Linked DNA regions of Homo sapiens. The protein of the gene in region 1 interacts with the protein of each later gene in a pairwise test. Each region holds a gene or a part of one and is shown in the gene's direction. Other genes may lie near its edges. The genes, in order: KIAA1217, PTK6 and HSBP1.

Evidence for each region.
Region 2: the proteins of KIAA1217 (region 1) and PTK6 interact in binary tests that used the Homo sapiens proteins (3 or more experiments, as listed by UniProt).
Region 3: the proteins of KIAA1217 (region 1) and HSBP1 interact in binary tests that used the Homo sapiens proteins (3 or more experiments, as listed by UniProt).

The regions. Positions count from the first base shown.
Region 1 is NC_000010.11:24,204,310-24,212,147, forward strand, and holds the start of KIAA1217 (sickle tail protein homolog), read left to right. Parts: upstream 1-4,828; 5' UTR 4,829-4,884; coding exon 4,885-4,954; intron 4,955-7,838. UniProt on the Homo sapiens protein: Required for normal development of intervertebral disks.
Region 2 is NC_000020.11:63,534,307-63,542,155, reverse strand, and holds the start of PTK6 (protein-tyrosine kinase 6), read left to right. Parts: upstream 1-4,779; 5' UTR 4,780-4,841; coding exon 4,842-5,071; intron 5,072-7,096; coding exon 7,097-7,218; intron 7,219-7,840; coding exon 7,841-7,849. Other genes in the region: tyrosine-protein kinase Srms, read left to right, coding at 536-717, 809-965, 1,157-1,338. UniProt on the Homo sapiens protein: Non-receptor tyrosine-protein kinase implicated in the regulation of a variety of signaling pathways that control the differentiation and maintenance of normal epithelia, as well as tumor growth.
Region 3 is NC_000016.10:83,803,608-83,811,023, forward strand, and holds the start of HSBP1 (heat shock factor-binding protein 1), read left to right. Parts: upstream 1-4,370; 5' UTR 4,371-4,469; coding exon 4,470-4,514; intron 4,515-5,072; coding exon 5,073-5,139; intron 5,140-5,697; coding exon 5,698-5,816; 3' UTR 5,817-5,818; intron 5,819-7,416. UniProt on the Homo sapiens protein: Negative regulator of the heat shock response. Negatively affects HSF1 DNA-binding activity. May have a role in the suppression of the activation of the stress response during the aging process.

The DNA.
Region 1 (7,838 bases):
CTGGTGAAATTGTTGCTCTTAACGCAGAAGGGAAAATTCTGTTTTGATCTATGAGTCATATAGAAATGTATTATACTATGGAATCTGCGAAATTGTTTGTTAGTGGGGCTTGTAATACGGTCCGTGTGAGGCTCACACCTTTGCTCTAATTATTGTTTAAGATTAATTATTTTTTAATTATTGTTTCAGATTCTTTTATAGGGTCTTTGTTGGGAAACTCAAACAGTATCATTATGTTCCCCTCACATTTGGAAACCTAAGGCGCCCAGAGGGCTTATCTTGGGATCACACATAGGTGGCCATCTGTGCTGGTTTGCCAGGGACAGTCGTGGTGTCTTATTGTCCAGTTGTAATTATTAATAGTGTCTACTTTCCCTCTCACAAATGCTGGTTTATACTAAGTATAAGGTCACCCTAACCACCTGACACATTGCTGTCAAAACTAGGATTGGAGAGCCCACATTTCACATGCGCCAGATCATCCATTTAAGCAAATGTTATCCCAGTTGTTAAAAATCCTTTATTTCTGACTTACAGGGCCTCATACCATAGCAGCCTGTCTTTTAGAAACAGTTAATGTGGAACACATCAAACACGAGGCCTCTGGTTGAAACACTTTTGTTGACTTCTTTGTTTTTCACTTTGTTTTAATTGACTCTCACAGTTATGAATGCCTTTGAAAAGTACATTTTAAGGACTTCAGCAAGCATTAATTATTTCTTTTGTGTCCTGATGTCAAGTCATTTTCAACTATCTGGTTCTTAATAGGATTTAAAGTGAAAAAATATTAAATATGTATCAGGGCAATTCCACTTACTCTTGGTTCTTGCAATGATTTCTCTGTTGAAAAACTTACATAGGCCAGGCACAGTGGCTCACGCCTGTAATCCCAGCGTGATTACTTTGGGAAGCCAAGGTGGGCGAATTACCTGCGGTCAGGAGTTCGAGACCAGCCTGGCCAATGTGGTGAAACCCCGTCTCTACTAAAAATACAAAAAAAAAAAAAAAAAAAAAAAAAAGCCAGGCGTGGTGGCACATGCCTGTAATCCCAGCTACTCAGGATGCTGAAGCGGGACAATTGCTTGAACCCTCGAGGCAGAGGTTGCAGTGAGCCGAGATCGCGCCATTGCACTCCAGCCTGGGCGACAAGAGCAAAACTCCGTCTCAAAAAAAAGGAAAAAATGCCGGGCGCGGTGGCTCATGCTTGTAGTCCCAGCACTTTGGGAGCCCGAGGCAGGCAGATCACAAAGTCAGGAGATCGAGACCATTCTGACTAACACGGTGAAACCCCATCTCTACTAAAAATACAAAAAGTTAGCTGGGCGTGGTGGCATGTGCCTGTAGTCCCAGCTACTTGGGAGGCTGAGGCAGGAGAATCACCTGAACCCAGAAGGTGGAGGTTGCAGTGAGCCGAGATCATGCCACTGCACTCCAGCCTGGGTGACAGAGCAAGATGCTGTCTCAAAAAAAAAAAGGAAAGAAGGAAAAAAGGAAAAATTTACATGAAGGAAGTTGACATGCTTTCCACAACCCTATAATTGGCCTGCTGAGAAATCATATGCAATTGTTTACGATTTTTGTGATTAATTCTCTTTATGGTGAATGCCATTTACGTTGCGTTATCAACACCAATAATGGTCCAGTTCTGTAACGGGTTAGCTATGACTGCAAAATCACCATTTGTCTTTACAGCACTCTTTTATCTCGTCACTTGTCTTTCCTTTTAAATGACATTTGTTTTATGTGGTAGCTCATTTTGAGTCATGAATTGCAACATATGGAACCACTAACCAAGAAATAGTCTTGCACCTTTCCCTGTTAACAGAAACGGAGTTGAAAACTTAGCCTCCTGGTATTATTATTATTCTAGTTCTTTATATGACTGGAGGAAAATCAGATTTCAAGTTCTTCCCGCTTTCCTTATGCCTTTCACAGCAAATTTCAAAGTATAGCAGTAGGCAGATTGCAATGTAATAGCAATTTTTAAGCCCAGAAATTAAATTAAACCAGAAAGAAATACACCTACTTCTAGTTCAAATAGTGTTTCTTCCAGAAAGAAGAACATCTCCACAGTAACAGCAGTGACAATAAGAGTATTTTCATGAAGATCGGAGTTACCAGGTTTATATAGATTGCAGAATACAGCTACTGTTTTCCAGAGACACTGACAATCAGTGCTAAATTGTTAGGAAGGTCTCTGTGCTTTGGAGAAAGATATGGAATAGTCGGTGCAAGGGCAAATAGAGTGCCTTCTCAAATTGTTTTCAGTTCCTCTTCTTAAGGAGGAACAAAAGGCCAGTAAGTAATCCAATAGAAGCTTTTCCCTATAGAATGGTCAGAAAGTTTGATCATTCAAAAGAACATTATTTTACCATAAATACATGTCTAGGTTTCATGATCCTTAATGATTCATGTTAATTCTCTTCCCCCAATGCCTTTTTCTGTTGTGCATATCACAGAGTTTTGTTTCCTGGAATATCAGCAGAGAGGGCAGTGGGCTTGGCCCGTATGGGGGAGGGGAGGGTCCTAGCAGCTGGAAAGCAAGGTCGGCTGACCAAGGGGGTTCCTTGGGCTGCCTGGAAAATGGTAGTTCAGACCTGGTGGGAGACATTTCCCTATTTTTGTCCATCTAGGGGTCAACAGAGGCCTGAAAGACTGCTCTGACACCTTCCAAACAGCCCCCAGGAAATCTTAATCAGCATCTGCCAATGGATCTTTTCTGCCTGGGTTGAGCTAGCCAGGAGGGCCCTGGGGCAGGGTGCTGTTTGTGGCTGCCAACGGCTGTGGCAGCCCTCTGCTGCCTCCTTCATCCTGGGGTTTTTGCCTTTGTGCTACACCAAATGACAGGTAGGAGCTGTTAAGCACGGGCTCTCTGGACACCAGAGCAAGGGGATTGGGGTCACAACCAAAGGCTGCGGGACATCTGATTTGGGCTGCTGCATCTCCTGCTACAGTGTTTCTCTCTCTCTCTCTCACACACACACACACACACACACACACACACACATACTTTTCTCCCACCCTCCTCCCCACTCTTCCTAGCATTAATACTTTAAAGACAAATACACAACAGTATACAAGAATCAGGATGATCTGGACCTGAAAGGCTGAACACAGCAGGGCCCTCCTTCATGAACATTTTGCACCTAAGGAAATAATAAGGTTAAAACTAGATTCATCTGGCCTTTGCCCAGGGGCCACCAGGACAGAAACTGTGTAAGATTAGTTCCTCCTTAAAGCAAGATTGCCAGGTAATTCTGTTGCAAAGTCATAGAGACCTTAAGTTATCTGCCCTGCAAATCCCACTGCCTCTATTCAGGCTGCCGAGGCACTGCTTTAATTTTTTGAAAGATTCACCGCGTCTTCTTGGATTTCAAGAAAAATCCCGTTAAGAATTGAGGGGCTCTCTTCTTCCCCTCCTGACGTGAGTGTAACTCACTTCCTGGTATGTCTCCTTTCCTTTTGGCCTACATCCTTTGTCTGTTAGGTGCTTCCACATCCTTATGTCTTAAATGGCCAAAATACGTCACCCCCACTGCCAAAACACACAGGTCACTCGAGGTCACAATCTGGAACATAGGCTGGCCATTGTTCAGCACACATTCTTGATCTAAATCAATCTCAAACCTTGCTGGAATGCCCTGTAAACTGGGGCAAAGTATGGTCACCAGACTAACCATTGTCCTTTTTTACCCCTCCTGTGACGGGGCTACTACAGGTTACAAAATCGCGCTCTTCCTCCTAGCTACTGTGTTACTCTGAGATATCTGACATCGCAGAGCTAATGTTGCCTAAATTATTTTCCCATCCTCTTTTTTTTTTTTTTTTCGGACATCATGCCTCCTATTTTCACTCTCTGGGAACTCTGCCAGTTTTTCAAGGACTGGGTAAAGAACAAAATAAATATTTGTAGGTGGTTTAAAAGGAGAAGTATGTTGGTTGTAACTCTGCCTGTCCAAAGAAATGCATTTTCACTGTCTTTCAGATTTTTGGAGTCGTTAACTGGGAGAGCTTCAGAAGATTGACTTTACTAGTTTACCTTTCAGATTTGTGATTAAGGGCTGGGTGTGTGTGTGTGTGTGTGTGTGTGTGTAAGTGTGTTGGGGGAGGGAGGAGTCTGAGAAAGTGAGCAAGTACGTAGAAACTTTTTTTTAAAAAGTCCAGATTAAGTGATTGAAATCGACTGTGTGCAAATGACGCTATACCTCTTCATAGATGTTAATCGGGCCCTAAAAAGTTAGTGCCGGAAAGTGCTTACTTACAACACTCAGCATATACTCTTTCTTTCAAATTGTTTGGGATTTTTTTTTAAGGGAGTTCACTGAAATTTGGGAGGTTCAACAGGTTGCTGTTTTTTAATATGTGGATCACCCGATTTGGGAGGCTCACTCTGCCTCTGAGATTAAAGAGATGAGGGCACTGGCTCCCAGCGAAGGCTCTCGGCCTTAATCATGTGTGAAATGTTTTCCTTCCTCGGCTGCAGAGCCTCGGTGGTTTGCAGCAGTGGAACCAGGCAGGCCCAGTTGTGGGTAGGAGAGGCCGTCACCTGTTGAGGCCTCCCCCCCACACCCCCGCATCGCCCTGCCCTGGCAGAGCCCAGCCCCCAGTCCCCGGAGAGCGCGCCTGAGGACGGACGGACGGACGGACGGACAGACCTAGGGACGGAGGGCCAGGGGCAGGGGAGATCCAAGAGGCCCCGCGCTGGAATGCAGTTTTCTCGGGCGAGGGAGACTTTGCACCGGAGTGGAAAATAGTTTGGGGTGGGGTTTCGCACCGTCCCCTCCTCCCCAGCCCCGGGCCCCCTCCCAGGCGCTTTCTGGGAGCTTTTAGAACTGCGCTCTGAAGTTTCCAGAGAGCGAGGAGCTTTTGCGGCAGGCAGAGACAATGGAAGAAAATGAAAGCCAGAAATGTGAGCCGTGCCTTCCTTACTCAGCAGACAGAAGACAGATGCAGGGTAAGTAACAGACCCATTCAAAGATGGAGTTACAGGGACGCGTGCCCCTTGCCGCTTGCTGCTTTTTATAAACTGCAGCTCTGGGACCCGGCAAAGGAAAAAAAAAAAAAAGGCAATTTCTTGGGATGGTACATTTTCCAAACTGAGTAGAGCATAGAGAACTGTGATTTCTTAGGCTTGACTTTATCTCTGGCACGATTTTCTTAAGCAGCAAAAGAGGTGGTGGGGTGATGTCACATTTGTAGTGCAGTGAGCCATCAGCATGAGCTGTATCTCTAAGCAATGACAAATAAATCACTAAGCAGCTTTTAATCATTTCCCCCCGGGGCTCCAGCCACGGGAGAAAGGAGCTGTTTTTGTGAAACTGTCTCTAGGACCGCAGCTTCCATTCATTGGTTGGGGGATTCCATGTGGCAGATGCATGCTGGCTGCAAAGTTTGTGCAGAATTTTAGAGTTAAATCACAGAAACCAGGCATGTTTTATTTTACAGATCCGAGCAGCAGGGGAGGGCTTGAGCATCTGGGTGATAGATAGAACTCTGGATCTTCTTTTATGTTTTAATTCAAAACTTGGGAGTTGTTGGACAATTTTGGTAAATTTTCTCCAGGCAGTTTCCCTTTAATTGTGTTTATAATAGACTTGTCTTTTCCGTAGGGAATTTCCAGAAGCTTATGTTGTTCCAAAGAAATTTCGCACCGGGTTGGGTGGCCAGAGGAGGTCCCTGCTCTCTGGCATCTGATGCCTGTGATGCCAAGAGCTGATTCTGTGGGATCCTATAGGCAGCATGTTCATAAACCACACAGCCCTGGACCACCCGCCCCACCCTCCCTCAGGTTCATGCAGGGGCCAGTACACAACAAAAAGACGTGCGGGAGTGCAGTGCTGTGCGTGGGAGTAGGGATTATGCACAGGGGAAAAGGTGTGTGTTTTATGAAAATGTGAAAGGGAAGTAACACATGACTCATCCACGCTGAAAATGCAAAGCTAAGCCAGTCAGGAGAACTTACAATGACAAGAGATAGAAATCCCCCAGTGAAATGCAGAAAACTTGAAGTTTTGTAATGGCTGGAGAATCCCTGAGTCTGAACAGTCATCTGTCGAAGTGTCTGCCTTCGTGCTGCCAAAGCACAGCACTCTCCTTCAGGCTACCGGGGTCAGTGGCATCCAGTGGAAGATAAGGCTACCTCGTCCCCCTGACCCCCGCAACCCCCCACCCCCATTTTCTAGGACAGGATCCTACTTCAGGAATTCAACCTCTGGGCCTGTCCTGAAAGAGATGACTCAGATTCTAGAGGGGCCATTAGAAAGGGATCCATTTAAGAAATGACTTTCCAACAATCAGGGCAATTCAGAGGCTTCAGAGGCTAGGATGGTCAGCCTGAGACAGTGTGCTCCTTTGCTCACTAATTCATTCATTCAGTGAATATTGAGCATCTGTTATGTAGACGTCACTGTTTTAGCTGCCAGACATCCAGTGGTGAACAAAGCAGACTAAAAATACTTGCCTTCATTTAACTTCCAGTGTAAGGACCAAGTTTCAGGGGGTGGGGAGCTGGTAGAGACAGACAATGAACAAATAAATAAAATATATAGCATGTTAGATGGCACGGCTGCTGGATTTAGCAAATAAAAATACAGGAGGCCCAGCTAAATTTGAATTTCAGGTAAACGGTGAATTTTTTTTTTTTTAGTATAAGTATATCCCATGCCATATTTGGGATATACTTATGTTAAAAATACTTCTCCATTATTTATGTAAAGTGCACATTTAACTGAGCAGTCCTGTATCTTATCTGGCAACCCTATTTGATGGAAATAAGGTTACAGAGAAAAATAAAGCAGGAAAAGGAATAAGGAGTGAAACTGTAAATAGGATTATTAGAAAGAGCTTCGCTGAAGTGATATTTGAACAAAGACAGGAGAGGTAACAGCAGGGATGTAATGTTTTCAAAGAACAGCAAGAACATGGGAGAAGGATGGGAGGAAAAGAGATTGAGAGGTAATCCCAGGCCAGATCACCTAGGGCCCATGAAACCATTGTAAGGACTAGAGCTTTTATTTTGAAAGAGGTGGGAATCTCCTGGCAGGTGGGACTACTTTTTTTTTTTTTTTTTTTTTTTTTTTTTAGAGAGGGTCTCATTTGTCACCCAGACTGGAGTGCAGTGGTGTGATCATAGCTCACTGCAGCCTTGAACTCTTGGGCTCAAGCAATCCTCTGGCCTTAGCTTCCAAATAGCTGGGACTACTGGGACATGCCACCATGCATGGTTGTATTGTATTGTATTGTATTGTATTGTATTGTATTGTATTGTATTGTATTGTATTGTATTTTATTTTATTTTAGAGAAGGGGTCTTGCTATGTTGCCCAGGTGAGTTACAAAGGGATTTGTCTTTTTAAATGGGGTAATACTGGGTGCTGTATTGAGCACAATCCAAGTAGGGTTGAGGGAAGGGCAGGGAGGCCTTTAGGAAGCTTCTGCAGTCAAGGAGGCAAGAACCAGGGCTAGCTTGGACCAGGCGGTGATTAGCAGGCGGTGATAAGCCAGCAGATTCTAGGTGTATATTGAAGGTAATGCCCAAAGCATTTCCTGTAGCCTGGGCAGCATAGTGAGACCCCATCTCTAGAAAAAAAAATTTAGCTAGGCATAGTGCCCTGTAGTCCCAGCTACTTGGGAGGCTGAGGCAGGAGGATCACTTCAGCCAGGAGGTTGAGACTGCAGTTAGCCATGATTACACCACTGCACTCTAGCCTGGGTAACAGTGTAAGATTCTGAAAGAAAGAGAGAGAGAAAGACAGAGAGAAAGAGAAGGAAGGAAAAAGAAAAAAGAAAAAAAAAGAAGAGAGAGGAGGGGAGGAGAGGAGAGGAAAAAAGAAAAGACAA
Region 2 (7,849 bases), on another chromosome or scaffold:
CCCTCCCTGCTGCCACGTGGCCCTGACGCGCCTGCGACCGCCCCTTCCCTCCTGGCGCAGAGCTGAACCTGCGGGGTTTCCGAGGTGAACCGGGCCTCTCTACCGGGAGCAGGTGGCCCCGGCTGCAGATCCCATCCCTGTCTGGTCTCCAGCCAACAGGGGGCTGGCGTCAGGTCTGGGCCAGGCCAGAGCCTTGTGGCTCCGGGGCTGGAGCTGGTGTTCGGGGGCGGTGGGGGGCGCGGTCCCATCTGGGTCACCAGCCTTGGTCTAATGTGACATAGACCCAGCCCAGCCTCTGGCTCTTCTCTGCCCTGGTCTTTGTCGGGGGCCTGGGCCGGCTGCCGGGTCACTGTGGTGAGTACAGGACCCTCGCCCTGTCTCACTTGGGGCTTCCCGTGGCCTTAGCCGGCCATGCCATCCTCGCCACGTCTTAGAGATGAGGAGGCTGAGGCATGGGGGAAGGTGACGTGGGTGGACGCTGGCCTCACCGGCCGTTGGCCCCGTGCCCTAAAAGACCCCGCGCTGTCTCCTGCAGCCCCCGAGGGCCGGGCCCTGCGTCTGCCGCCACTCCTGGGCTTTGCCTGCCAGGTGGCTGAGGGCATGAGCTACCTGGAGGAGCAGCGCGTTGTGCACCGGGACTTGGCCGCCCGGAACGTGCTCGTGGACGACGGCCTGGCCTGCAAGGTGGCTGACTTCGGCCTGGCCCGGCTGCTCAAGGTCAGCGGAGGCTCTGGGCCCCTGACCCAGAGGGGGTGGGTGAGGGGACCCCGGTCCACCTGCCCTACCAGGGGCCTTCCCTCGCCCCCAGGACGACATCTACTCCCCGAGCAGCAGCTCCAAGATCCCGGTCAAGTGGACAGCGCCTGAGGCGGCCAATTATCGTGTCTTCTCCCAGAAGTCAGACGTCTGGTCCTTCGGCGTCCTGCTGCACGAGGTTTTCACCTATGGCCAGTGTCCCTATGAAGGTGGGTCCCCAGGCAGCCAGAGGGAGGATGCAGGCTCTGCCCAGGAGTCACTGGCCCCGGGCCTGGACGCTGTCGGCAAGGGGTTGGAGGGTCTGGCCAAGGGCAGGCAGATGACATGGGGGGCTACAGGAGGCCTCCTCCATAGGGACCCCCAGGCAGAATCGAGGCAGCTCTTGCCCCGCGCCTCCCAGGGATGACCAACCACGAGACGCTGCAGCAGATCATGCGAGGGTACCGGCTGCCGCGCCCGGCTGCCTGCCCGGCGGAGGTCTACGTGCTCATGCTGGAGTGCTGGAGGAGCAGCCCCGAGGAACGGCCCTCCTTCGCCACGCTGCGGGAGAAGCTGCACGCCATCCACAGATGCCACCCCTGAGTCCTCACGTGACCCAACGCTCTGGGCTCCAGCCAGGCCAGCCCCTCCTCCCTGCAGAGCGCCAACTCGAAGGGATGCCGGTCTGCCGGACCGAGGAGCCTCTGGCTGTGGGCCTCAGGCCCTGGCGTGCACACATGTTCGTGCACCAGGCAGACGTGCAGACGGAGGGCTGGGGCTGACGTCCCCCGTGCAGTGTGACTCGTGCAGACGGAGGGCTGGGGCTGACGTCCCCCATGCAGTGTGACTCGTGCAGACGAAGGGCTGGGGCTGACGTTCCCCGTGCAGTGTGACTCGTGCAGACGGAGGGCTGGGGCTGACGTTCCCCGTGCAGTGTGACACGTGTCCCTGGCCTCTCAAGAGAGACAACGGCACAGGAGGGTGGGTAGAAGCCTCGGAGGCTCTGGGTGAGGAACCCTGAGCCCTGTGTGTCTCCTGCCTGGGTCCCCTGGACTCCCTCCCAGGGTGAAGAGCCAAAGGCCCAGTTCTCTCCCTAGTCCCAGCTTGGGTTTGTGGAAATGACCAGTGCTGACTCCCAGGCAGACCGTGGTGTTGACCCCACTGGATGTGTGGTATGTAGGCACGGGGTGGCACCGTCACCTGCCCCTCACAGACACACTGGCGGCCTGTGCACAAACCCACTCACGCACACAGCACTCAGTAAGCCGGGACTGACCCACTCAGACACGCACACAGGCGCACATCACACACAGGCTCAGCCCCCCAAACCCAGACCCAGGAGCTGGAGCGTACGGGTCCACGTGGCTAGAAAATGCAGGTTGGAGCGGCCCCCATGCCGCCCGGACCCCCAGCCCAGGACATCATGGTGCCCAGAGAGCGTGAGCCCCAAGGGCATTGGCAGGAGCTGCCGATTCCATCTCCCTGGGTGGGTTCCAGGTGGCACAGGAAGGGTGGGCCGGGAGGCTTGGTGACCTGGGAGCTGCCCTTGGAGGCTATTTCCAGGGGCCTCAGGGTGGGCCGTGGGGGATTTGGAGTCTTCTGCCTGTGCAGGGTCAGGCAGGGTCGGTTGGGGGCTCGGAGGTAGATGCCATGGTATGCTGGGCAGCAAGTGGCTCAGGAAGCCTCTGGGTGTGAGTCCTCGGGGGTCACCAAGGCAGGAGGGGGCAGGGATGTGCAGGGTCCGCCCTCGTCTCCCCACGTCTGGCTCAGGGAAGCTTCTGCTCAGGTCTTCGTGAAACACGTCAAGAAGCAAGGGGGCCGGTGGGGTCTGTTTGTGGCCCCCGGAGACCCTGCCCCCCACCCTCCTGGGAGCCCAGGTTGGCAGCTGTGCCCAGAAGGCTTTCGGGGACAGAAAGTTTGGAGACAAGTTCAGGCCTGACTGAGTCCTTGTCCCCTAGAGTTGGGGTCAGCTCTGTACCTGCTGAGCCGAAGTGCTGATGGCTGCCGTCCACAGGCCCCGGCCAAAGCCTGGCTCAGGAGGGAGCTAAGAGATGAGACTCCCGTGTGCAGAGACAGGTGGCCCCGGGGAAGGAAGAGGCCACTCGGAGGCTCCGAGAACGGAGGCAGCGCGGGGGCTTCCTGGGGCCCGTGCATCGGAGGAACAAGGCCAAGCGGAGGGAAGCAGCAGGAACCAGGACCCCTGCAGATGGTGGAGGCAAGAGGCTTTATCTGAGCCTTTGGGACCCTGGCCACCTGCCCAGCTCCATCTGCATGGGAGAACCTAGGGGAGGGGCTGGTTCTGGTACCTGGGCCCACTGAGGCCTTGAGCTGAGCTTCCAGTTCTGGCAGGTCCCCAGCACAGCAGCCTGGGGGCTCCTCTGGCACAGAAGGCCTCGCCCTCTGTGCTCTCTGCAGCCGCCACTGGGATTAAGGGGACCAGGTGTGTCTGTGGCACCTGTGCCCTCCTAGGCATCTCGCCAGCCACCAGCTGAACAGGTTTGGTGCTCCTGGGTATCTGGGAGGGGCTGGGGACGTTCCTGCCTCCTGGTGTGGCTTAGACTGAAAGTCCTGCACGTCCGAACTCAGGGATACTCGAGGCTTCCTGGACATAGACTCACGGGCCCAGAGTCTGGCCGGGCTCTGAGGGACGCTGCCCGGCCAGGTGCCCCGGCACCCTCCTTCCGCATTCCCCACCCCCCACCCCTCCCCCTGCATCCTCCCCAACCGACCCCAGACAGAGCTGGGAGGGCCTGAGGGACACTGCCCAGGCCGGCACCCCGCTGCCCCTCCCCACCTTGGTCAGCGCTGAGCTGGGCTGCCCAGAAATCTATGAGCCTGTTAAATAATCCAGATTATTGTTCTTAATCTCAAAACAATGAGTGGAAGGTGCCATTATTTCTCTTTGCAATAAAAATAAAAGTTGAAATACGCAGTTTAGGGACTTTCCTTACCACCCCTTGCAGACTTTGAATTTCCCTTCCCGCCCCTTCCTGCCCCCTTGTGGCTGCCAGTCCAGGTCCCTGGGTTGGAGCTCCCGGGTGGACACAGTAGGGTCAGTGGGAGGGTGGGGCGGGGAGGGGCCTCCAGGGAGGGGGTGTCCCGAGTCTCAGGGGCTGGGGGGCAGGCGGCCGTCGGGTGCAGGTGGGGGTCACGGCAGGGCTCACTCAGGCATGAGTCGGGAGAAGGGAGGCCAGCTGGAAGGGGGCAGGGGTCCTGCGGGCTGGACAGGAGGAGGCAGAGGCTGGAGGCGGGAGGGGCTGCCTGGGAGGGACCTGTGGCCTTGGGCCCCAGCGCCATGGGCGCTTCCAGGCCGCACTCACGGTCCTTGCCTGCCCCCTGGCGTCCGTGTGGAGGAAGGCAGTGCCCGTTTCTTCAGCCGTGGGTGCCCCTGGCTCTGCCTCCCCGGGGATCCCCCAAAACCCTCGGGCCCTCCTCTTCCGGGAAGTCCTCCGGGCCGACCCACACAGCTGTCGCTGCCCTGATTCCACTCCCTCTTCCCTGCTTGGCCCTTACCCGAGGGCGGGCCTGCCCATGAGGCCGCTCTCAGGACGCCTGCCCACAGCAGCTCCTGACATTGGGCCCTGTGCTCAGGGGTGGAGTCTGGGGCTGGGTGAGGGCACCGACGGGTGGAGGGGAAGCTGCCGGAAGCGGGGAGAGAGGCGGCCCCCACCTGTGCCCCCGCAGCTCTGAGGGTTGGGAAGGCAGCGCCTGCAGCCCTCACCTTCCTGCCCTCAGGCTGCGAGGCTTGTTCCCAGAGGGCCGTTGGCTTCCCTGAGTGCCTGAGTGTCCATAAGTTGGACCCCCAAGAAGCCCCAACCGGGAGGTCCTCCTCCCCCTCTCCTGCGCTCAGGCCGGCCCTGGCGGTGCTTGCCCAGTGGGTTCCCATAGTGCGGGCGCTAAGTGCTCAGATGGGCCCCAGTGGGCCTGAGGACTTGTGGGGCCGGCTGGGCCCTCAGGAGGAGCCGGGGTGCTCTGGAGCGCCTGTGGGTGCTGGGTGTGGCTGCTTCCCGGCCTGTCATGAGGAAGTGGGACGGCCCGCCTGCCACGCCCAGCTCTGGGTGCTCCAGCTGGGCCACAGCCTGGTCCTGCCGCTGCGCCCGCCCGCCATGGTGTCCCGGGACCAGGCTCACCTGGGCCCCAAGTATGTGGGCCTCTGGGACTTCAAGTCCCGGACGGACGAGGAGCTGAGCTTCCGCGCGGGGGACGTCTTCCACGTGGCCAGGAAGGAGGAGCAGTGGTGGTGGGCCACGCTGCTGGACGAGGCGGGTGGGGCCGTGGCCCAGGGCTATGTGCCCCACAACTACCTGGCCGAGAGGGAGACGGTGGAGTCGGAACCGTGCGTGTCCTAGGCTGCTGGGAGCTTTGGCACAGGCCACCCTCTAGGCACAGGGGAGGGACAGGGCTCTGGGCTGCTCAGGGAGGCCCAAGAAGGTGGGGACCCCGGTTCCATCTTCCTGCACCCCAAAGTCCAGGCTGGGCATCCCGCTTGATCCTCCCTGCAGGCCCCATGCGCTGGCGCCCAGGAGTGCCCAGGACTGTCCCTGCGGGAGTTGGAGCACGGGGGTCAGAGGGCACGGCCCCTGCCTTGGGCTCATCCTTGTCACAGCTCGGGGGTGGACGCTGCATTGCCGGGACCCAGGGAGGACAGAGGGTCCAGGGTGGACTTCTGGGGCCCGGTGGCCAGTGACAAGGTCTGTCGGAGCGTTCCAGGGCCTTTGGGGGAAACGAAGCTTGAAGCTTGCCCAGTTTCCAAAGTGCCGGAACCAGACACACGACCTAGTTAGGGGAGCGGGCCGGCTGCCGGGCAAACTTCCTGCCTGCTGTGCCCTGCGGGGAACCAGACAGCAGCTGGTGTGGCCTGGCCCTGGCTTCCACAGCTGCCCGGAGCTCAGGCTGAGGAGGGTCACGCTCCTGAGATCCCGCGTTTCTCATCAGTGATTGGGCACCCACTGTGTGTGTGCGTGAGTCACAGGCTGTGTAGGGTTAGCTCCCGGGGGACCCAAGCAACAAGCAGGGGAGGCTGTAAAGAGGCCGTCGGGCAGGGGCCCATGGTGGAGACCCCTCTATTACGTGCAGACCCACGACCTCGTTAGCAGGGTCACGCGCAGACCCACGACCTCGTTAGTGAGCAGGGGTGCAGGGGTGGGGTCTGGCCGGAGGCTGGTCAGCTCCCAGGTGCAAAGACCCTGAGTCCTGAGAACTCGCCCAGGTGAGAAGTGGGGAGGAGGCCAGGTGAGGAGGGGGTGGGAGGCCAGGTGGGGGGGGGAGCGGGAGGCTAGGTGGGGGGGGCTGGAGGCCAGGTGAGGGGGGGCGGGAGGCCAGGTGGGGGGGGCGGGAGACCAGGAGAGGAGGGGACGGGAGGCCAGGAGAGGAGGGGGCGGGAGGCCAGGAGAGGAGGGGGCGGGAGGCCAGGTGAGGAGGGGGCGGGAGGCCAGGTGAGGGGGGGGCGGGAGGCCAGGTGAGGGGGGTGCGGGAGGCCAGGTGAGGACGGGGTGGGAGGCCAGGTGAGGGGGGGGCGGGAGGCCAGGTGAGGAGGGGGCGGGAGGCCAGGTGAGGAGGGGGCGGGAGGCCAGGTGAGGGGGGGGGCGGGAGGCCAGGTGAGGAGGGGGCGGGAGGCCAGGTGAGGAGGGGGCGGGAGGCCAGGTGAGGGGGGGGGCGGGAGGCCAGGTGGTTGGAGGGGCAGGTGGGGCAGTGCTTCCAGGTGTGCGGAAGTGGAGGGGGTGGACCCCAGGGGCTCCATGCTGGGCCGTGGTCTTCTGTGTGGGGTTTGTGTTCCAGTGACCTGAGGGAGTCAGACACACAAAGGGCGCAGGTCACCTGGAGCTTCTGCAAGCTCCACCTGGAAGTCCACAGTCCAGGGCTGGCCCACACCCCGCAGCCGGGAGTTAGTGCGCGCGAGTGGCTGTGTGTGCGTGCGTGTGAGCGTGTGGGCAAGTGAGCACACATGCGCGTGTGTGTTCAGGTGTGCGGGTGAACTGTGCGCATGTGTGGGGGTTTGTGACTGTGTGTGTGTGAGCGTGCGTCACACATGGGTGTGTGCAGGCAGCTCTGGGCAGCCATCCTGCTCAGCTGCCCTCCCCAGCTCCACCCTAGGCTCTGACCCCTAGACTCGGGCCACTCAGGGCAGGGTGTGGTAGCGCCTGCCCCTGCCCCCGCCGGGTCCTCAGGGGCCTGTCCTGGCCTTTCGGGACATTCAGGGCGTCTGGGTCAGCGACAGCTCCTGAGAGCAGCTGTGGTCAGGGCTGGGAGCTTGAGGTGGCAGGCAAGGGCGGCTGGGGTTCCAGGCGGGCAGGCTGGGGCCAGCGTGGGGTCCACGTGGGGTGGGCCCAGGTCCGCGTGTTCTCAGACTCCTCCCCTGCAGGTGGTTCTTTGGCTGCATCTCCCGCTCGGAAGCTGTGCGTCGGCTGCAGGCCGAGGGCAACGCCACGGGCGCCTTCCTGATCAGGGTCAGCGAGAAGCCGAGTGCCGACTACGTCCTGTCGGGTGCGGCCCCGGCCTCCGAGCCTGTGCTTGCCTGCGGGGGCTCCTGGCTCTAAGCCCTCCCAGCCACGTGGTGAACCCGGCTCGCTCTGGCTGAGACGGGGGACATGGGCTCCTCTCCAGGGAGCTCCCATCCCCTCCGCCCACCTGGCCCGCTCCTCCCTGGGGCCTGGGTCACTGGCTGCTAGGGTAGTCGTGGGGCAGGGCCCCTCCCTGGGAGGGCAGGGGCTTCTCCAGCCAGCCCTGCCCGAGGCACTCGTGGGAGGTCCTCAGCACCCATGGGAACCTCGCCCAGCATGAGACCTGAGCCTGGGGTGTGCGGGGCGCAGAGAAACCCCATCCCTGCCCCTGAGGATCTCAGCATGGCTGGGATTTTAGGCAGCTGCCATCCAGGCGGAGGCCACTGGCTGCCTGGCACGGGGGCAGGAGGGGCCAGAGAGCTTGGCCAGAGCGTGCAGGGCAGGAGGGAGCCGTTCTGAGGGAGGGGAGGCAGGGGTGGTACTGAGGAAGCACCAACAGCAACTGTGGGGACCCAGAAACTCTGCGCAGGTGTGGCCAGCAGGGCTGGGGACGCAGGGAGGCGTCGGAGTTGGGGTGGCCACACAGCTCACGCTCTCCCTCCCAGTGCGGGACA
Region 3 (7,416 bases), on another chromosome or scaffold:
GAATACAATAAAGCAGCAGTAAAAATAAATACAATGAAAACAAACAAAAAAGCATAATTACCTTTTAGCTGGATACTATGTCTACTTAAGGTCTGCGTATGAAACTCTCTGTATTAAAATGAGAGATAGATAAGGATTAGAGAGGTCTCAAAGACACAGTAATATCCACCTGAGACCCTCTGCTTGTCAGGATCACTCAAAGAGAAATGAAAATGGAATGAATGAATGTCAACCGTGTGAGTCAGGCTTTTGTATCACCTGTCCACACAGCACCTAGAACCATTTTAGTAGAAGCAAAACAAGCAAAGTTGCATGAACAGGAGGTAAGGAAGTGGATCAAGTAACTAAGACAATAAGTCCTTCCTTTCTAGAAGCTCCCCTATGAGCAGTAGCTCAACAAGGGCACACAGTCAGTGGAGGTTCACCCTGGTTGGACTGGTTTCCATTTTCTATTTGTTTTTTGTGCAGCGGGGGTGGGGCGAGGGGTTGGTCACTTTTATGTGCTGAGAAGGAGGAATCATTGGAAAAAAGAAAATGAATGCAGGAAGCAAGTTCCTGGAGTTGAGGAAAGAGAATGGGATCAGGGCCCAGGTCTCTCTGCCTTAGACAAACGCAGAGCCCTGTGCGCGAGGAAGAACACTGCTTCCTGAGACAGAAAGGATCGTTAGCTAGTGACACGGGGGTTAATGTAGGAACTTAGGAATGCACGCAGGACGGGAGTTAAGGGGTTTTGATGGACAGTCTCCATTTTCTCCACAAAATAGAATATAAGGTCATCCTCTGAGGGTGAAGGGGATAAAGTCCTGGATTTGGGGGGACCAGAAAGGTTTGGAATGGCTACTGAAGGGCCAGGGCTAGGGCAGCCCAGGTCACTAGAAGGAAGGGGCACCCTTCACTGACCCTGCTGTGGCACCGCCCATCAGGTGAAGGTTGCTCAGCAGCAGCATGAGGCAACCTGGGAGGAAAGCAAACCAGGGGAGCAGCTGCTGGGCCCCAGGGCTGGGCCTACAGAGCTGACGCAGGTGCAACTAGGCAAAGAACATTCCAGTTCCTCCAAGGCCCCGCTAGGATCATTCCATCGCTGCTCACACAAGGCAAACGCACAAAGCACCTCATTGCATGTGGTCACATGGACAGACCAACACCTTCCATAGTGTATTTTATTATTACTGTTTTTTGAGACAGAGTCACAATCTGTTGCCCAGGATGGAGTGCAGGGGATAGATCTCGGCTCACTGCAACCTCTGCCTCCCCAGGTCAAGCGATTCTCCTGGCTCAGCCTCCTGAATAGTTGGGATTACAGGTGCACGCCACCTAGCCCAGCTAATTTTTGTATTTTTAGTAGAGATGGGGTTTCGCCACACTGGCGAGGCTGGTCTTGAACTCCTGGTCTCAAGTGATCTGCCTGCCTCAGCCTCCCAAAGTGCTGGGATTACAGGCATGAGCCACCATGCCCAGCCACCTATCATAGTACAGATCCAAGAAAGGAGGCATGTCAAAAGAATGGCCCAGAGAACCAAAAAGCAATTATAAAAGTACCATAATAAGCGCACGTAAAACAAAACTGTCTTGAATGGAAAAAGGGAGTTACAACATGCAATTAATCTAGGAAGAGCTTTAAAAAAAAAATGCCAAGAGGAGGTAAGACAACTATGACACTTAAATAAAGGTTAAAAATGAGAGTTGTTCAAAACCGAAGTTTAAAGGTTAATTACTGGTGCCTTACACGTAATACATTAGTTTTGTTAATGGGACAATATTCAGTTAGGTTCGGTGTGTCAGCCCCACAAGGTGAGTATGTCAGCCATGAGTATAAATTAGTGAAGCTTCCGTGAAAAGCAGCCCTTTAACAGACCTTGGTCTCCACACAGAGAAAGCATACTGCCTGTCTGTTTAAGTGCAAAAAATAAAGGAACAAATAATGCCTCCACTAAAAGAGTATCAAGTTTGTTTGTTGTTCATGTAAAGCAAATTTCCAATTGGAATTTGAAAAAAAAAAACCACAAGTGTCTTACCAGAAAAGGAAAGAAAAACTCCAGATTCTCGTGCTAATTCATGTTCCTGAGTTGCCCACAGCCATAAGACAGGTTTGCTCAGAGATCCAGGGTGCAGGCACCCAGCTTTCTTTGCTGAGTGTGGGAGTCCCAGGGATTGGGGTCTAAAGTCAGAAGCCTGAGGGCTTTCTTCACCTTGGCTATTCACTAGTTTTTAAGGAGTTCTGAAGTTTTATGAAAAGTCTTTTACGATTAGCTGGGCATGGTGGTGCTCACCTGTAATCCCAGCTACTCAGGAGGCTGAGGCAGGAGAATCGCTTGAACCGGGGAGGCGGAGGTTGCAGTGAGTCGACATGGTGCCACTGCACTCCAGCCTAGGCAACACAGCAAGACTCCATCTCAAAAAAAAAAAAAAAAAAAAAAAAGTCTTTTAAGAAAACTGAGATACTGGCATCTAGTAGGTAGAAGTCAGAGATGCTGCCCAACGTCCTACAATATACAGGGTGCCCCCTCCACCACCAACAATAAAGAACGACTTGACTCAAATGCCAGTATTGCAGCTCTTGAGAAACTCTGCTCTAAGCTCAAAAAACTCAGAGAATTCTAGAATGGTGAGAAAAAAGGAGAAGATGCAGAGTCAGGAAGTCCTGCGTCTCTTACTTCCTTAATTTGATGACCTTGTTCCAGTTTCTTAACGCCTCTGCATCTGTTTTCTCAAAAATGTAAAATTATGATAATTATATCACAGGGTCTTCTGAGGATTAACTTAAAACACTGAGATATTTTTATTTCAAGTAGTCGGGTAAAGCACTAGCCAAATACCAGTTGACAACAGCCAATTACAAAAAAGTTGTGTATACTTACACAGAAAGGAAGATCTCTCTATAGGAAAGGATGAGGTGTGAAGGGTGAGGGGCAAAGGTGTGAGTGAGGGGGAAGGGGTGGTAAAGGGAGTTGAAGTCTCATGCCTCAAGGCCAACTGGATTCCGGGTTTGTTAGAGACACTGGTGGGTCTGGCAGAGGCGTTTGAACAAGAGCAACTCCATCTCGAATAGGAGCTGGGTAAACTGAGGCTGAGAACTACTGGGCTGCATTCCCAGACAGTTAAAGGATTCTAAGTCACAGGATGGGATAGGAGGTCAGCACAAGGTACAGGTCATAAAGACCTTGCTGATAAAACAGCTTGCGGTAAAGAAGCCGGCCAAAACCCACCAAAACCAAGATGGCAATAAGAGTGAACCCTGCTTGTCTTCATTGCTACACTCCCATTACCGCTATGACAGTTTACAAATGCCATGGCAACGTCAAGAAGTTACGCTATATAGTCTAAAAAGGGGAGGCATGAATCACCCACCCCTGGTTTAGCATATAATCAAGAAATAACTATAAAAATGAGCAACCAGCAGCCCTCAGGGCTCTGTCTATGGAGTAACCATTCTTTTATTCCTTCATTTTCTTAAACTTGCTTTCACTTTACAGACTCGCCCTGAATTCTTTCTTGCATGAGATCCAAGAACCCCCTCTCTTGGGGTCTGGATCAGGACCCTTTCCCGTAACAGCTCTAACACCTTACAGCCTCTCCCTAGCTAAAGTCAAACTGGAGCTGACCCCTCACATAGCACAGTCCTTAAATGAGATGTGTGAAAGTTTCCAGAACATGCCAGGCCCGCAGTCAAGGACTCTCCTATCCCCTTGCCATGAGACCCAATCCTAAAGACCACCTGTGGGGTTGGAACTTGAGGTTCCAAATCAGCAGTGCCCACCTCCTTCAACACCCAAACCCACAGTCTAACCCTGATGCCGGAAGCCTTCCCCACTCAACAGCAGGCATTGCGTGGAGTGAAAGAAGCCAGGCATGATGGACAGCTTCCTGTCTGAATCCCCTCATATGAACCTGACGGGCACAATGAACCTACTGGGCTAAACTCCAGACGCTGGCCACCTTCATAGGGTGGAGATGACAGAACAGGACAGGAGCCATGGGGCTCCCGGGGCGGGTAGGGGTGGGTCATGTTCCTTGGCTTGGGGGCAGTTACAAGGGTACAGTGGGGCTTGTTGAAGGGCAAAAGTTCTGTAAGTTCGTCCCGACAGGCCAAAGAAACCCCAGAGCCGTCTTTCGACTGACTACAGCCTGGAAGAGAGGCCAAGACCACTCCCTGCCTCTATTGCTCCATTTCTGAGTTGGTCTCACTTTCCACCCCACTGACGGCGCGCTGCGTGAGGGGCGGGGCATAGAGGGAGGGGAGGGGCTATGCGAAAGAAGGCGGGGAGAGTGGGGTGGGGCCGCTCCTTGGAACGGAAGCGCGCGGCCTCGAGGCCCTTCCGGTGCGGGAGAAACTACTACTCCCATAATGCCCCGCGGTCCCGCGAGCTGCCAGTCTCGTCGCGAGAAGCAGCGGCCCGGGGCGACTGAGCGGACAAACGGAAGTGTAGGTTACGGTCTGAGACATCACCGCCAAGCTGGGCATCGGGGAGATGGCCGAGACTGACCCCAAGACCGTGCAGGACCTCACCTCGGTGGTAAGGGACGGCTGTGAGGGCCGGAGGCCGCGGCCTTCCCGGGCGGCGCCGGGCCAAGCCCTGCTGGACAGAGGCGCGCCCACCGCGGCCGCGCGTGGCGTCTGCCGAGGCCCCGTTTCTGGAAGCGTCTCTGGCCGAGGCTCCCGGCCACCTTGACCCCCGGGGCGCTCGGTGCGGGCCAGTCTCCCCGCGGGCGCCCCCAAGCCCGACCCCTTCCAGTAGCCCCATTCATCTGTCGCGAACGCCCTCCGGGTCCCTCCCGCCTACCTCTGACACCCTCCCCGCCCTTCAACTCCTCACACACCCCCGGGTGCCCCAGCCCGGCAGAAACAACCTAAAGACCCTGAGCTTTGAGTCGCAGCGGCCTCCCCAGCCCAGCAGTCTAATTGGACAGGTTGGAAAACGGAAGCCCAGAGAAGGAAGATCTTGCTGAAGGCCGCACAGCTGTCCAGAGGCAGAAATGGGGCTGGAACCCCGGGACCAGGGCTTGCGTCCTGATCCCAGGAAGTTGTCTCAGGATCGATGTGGACCGTGTTTGTTTGTTTCGGTTTTTCTTAGGTGCAGACACTCCTGCAGCAGATGCAAGATAAATTTCAGACCATGTCTGACCAGATCATTGGGAGAAATATCCTTTTTATCTGCAGTCGGCCTCCTGTGGGCCTTTGGAGCCTATTTGCCGGGCAGTGGTGGGGATAAATGAGTAGTTTTCAGGCTAGCTTCAGCCATTCACTTGTAGAATTTGAGCTTGGATTGTACTGTGTTTCTGAGAAGGACTGCGCCGAGAGCTAGGGGCAAAGCTGAGTTAGACTCCTGGCTCAAGGAGCATACGTCTACCAATCCTAATAGCTGGTGTGGTGGACCATGCACTGTGAACTAAGCGCTTTTGTGTGTGTCTTTTGATGCTCAGCATGACCTTATGAGTGGGTTGTAGTGTTATCATCTTTAGCAAATGAATAAATTGAGGTTTAGGGGTTCCATCACTAGTAAGGGTCAGGGCTGGAATCCGATGCGGGGTAGCCATGCCCCACAGTCCTGTACTCTTACCCACCAGCGTGTAACAGTGTCGAAAGAAAATTGGAAGACCAGTTTCCCTAAAGTCGTTGTGTTTAAGGCTGTAGTCTGCAGGGACGGGAGGAAAAAGGCTCAATGAGATGTTGGCACGCGTTGTCTTTAACTTCAGCACTTGATGATATGAGTAGTCGCATTGATGATCTGGAAAAGAATATCGCGGACCTCATGACACAGGCTGGGGTGGAAGAACTGGAAAGTGAAAACAAGATACCTGCCACGCAAAAGAGTTGAAGGTGAGGAAGGGGGCAATTTTTTTTTTCTTTTCTTTTCTTTTTTTTTTTTTTTTTTTTTTTGACACGGAGTTTTGCTCTTGTTGCCCAGGCTGGAGTGCAATGGCACGATCTCGGCTCCCTGCAACCTTTGCCCTCCTGGGTTCAAACGATTGTCCTGCCTCAGCCTCCCGAGTAGCTGGGATTACAGGCTTGTGCCACCACACCCAGCCAATTTTGTATTTTTAGTAGAGACGGGGTTTCTCCATGTTGGTCATGCTGGTCTCGAATTCTGACCTTGAGTGATTTGCCCGCCTCAGCCTCTCAAAGTGCTGGGATTACAGGTGTGAGCCGCCGTGCCCGGTCTTTTTTTTTATTTTGTCTTAAAAGAATAGAGAGAACCTGTAAGTATAATTTGTATGTAGTCAGACATTCTGTAGATCAGTTCCCAGCCATGATCCCAGCAAGCATCACTGTATTGTTTACCTGCTGTGGACTTGATGTTTTGAAATTTTTCATGCCAAACTCATTCTTTACACCGAATTTATTTTCCCAGTTTTTATTAATTAGACTTCTGTCACTATTAGTGAAGACCACTGGCTAACATTAGATAACCACTGAGTTTTTATCATTCCAGCTAATAATTAAGGTGTCTTTTTGTTGGCCTATAAAGCCTGTCACTGGAAGATTTTCCATTGCTTTTTTTTTTTTTTATGGAAATAACTGATAAGTCACCCACATTACCACCTTCTTAAATGGCTTAAATTCTGGAGACTTTCTTGGTAACTTGACATAGGTGAACTAGATTGTGGCCACATTAAGCTTTTACCCTGGAGTTCATTTAAATTTCCTCTGAATAGTTTCAGATGTCAGAGGAAAGCCTAGTAATTCAAAGTACCTACACAGCAAGATAGGTAAATGTACAGAATCACTCAGCAGAGTGCATGGTGATCCTTTTCCTCTGTATGTGTGAAAAATAAGTTTTAGACTCACTTTTCTCTTGTTTCATTTATAACATTTTAATTCTCTATAAAAATGAATGTTGCTGAGGGAGGCGGAGGTTGCAGTCGAGGTCACGCCACTGCACTCCAGCCTGGGCGACAGAGTGAGACTCTGTCTCAAAAAAAAAAAAAAAAAAAAAAAGGTACTGGTGCGTGGTGACTCATGCCTGTAATCCCAGCACTTTGGGAGGCAAAGGCAGGCAGAGGGCAGATCAGTTGATGTGAGGAGCTCGAGACCAACCTGGCCAACATGGTGAAACCCTGTCTGTACAAAAATTAGCTGGGTGTGGTGGTGCACGCCTGTAATCCCAGCTACTTGGCAGACTGAGACAGGAGGCAGAGTTTGCAGTGAGTCGTGATGATGCCACTGCACTCCAGCCTGGGAGACAGAGCAAGACTCTGTCTCAAAAAAATAAAATAAAATGGTTCCTGAGTATTTTTAGATTCGTAGAGTACTAAGCAGAATGTACAGTAAAACATGCCTAATTTCCTATTTTCTGGGCTTGCTGTGGACCACATTTTAAGTCACTGTGAAATACAGATTTGGGATGTTGAAGACAGACTCTAAAATTTGCTTTTATCTTCACAGTAGGTGGGGTTCATTCACTGTGTGAGTAAATC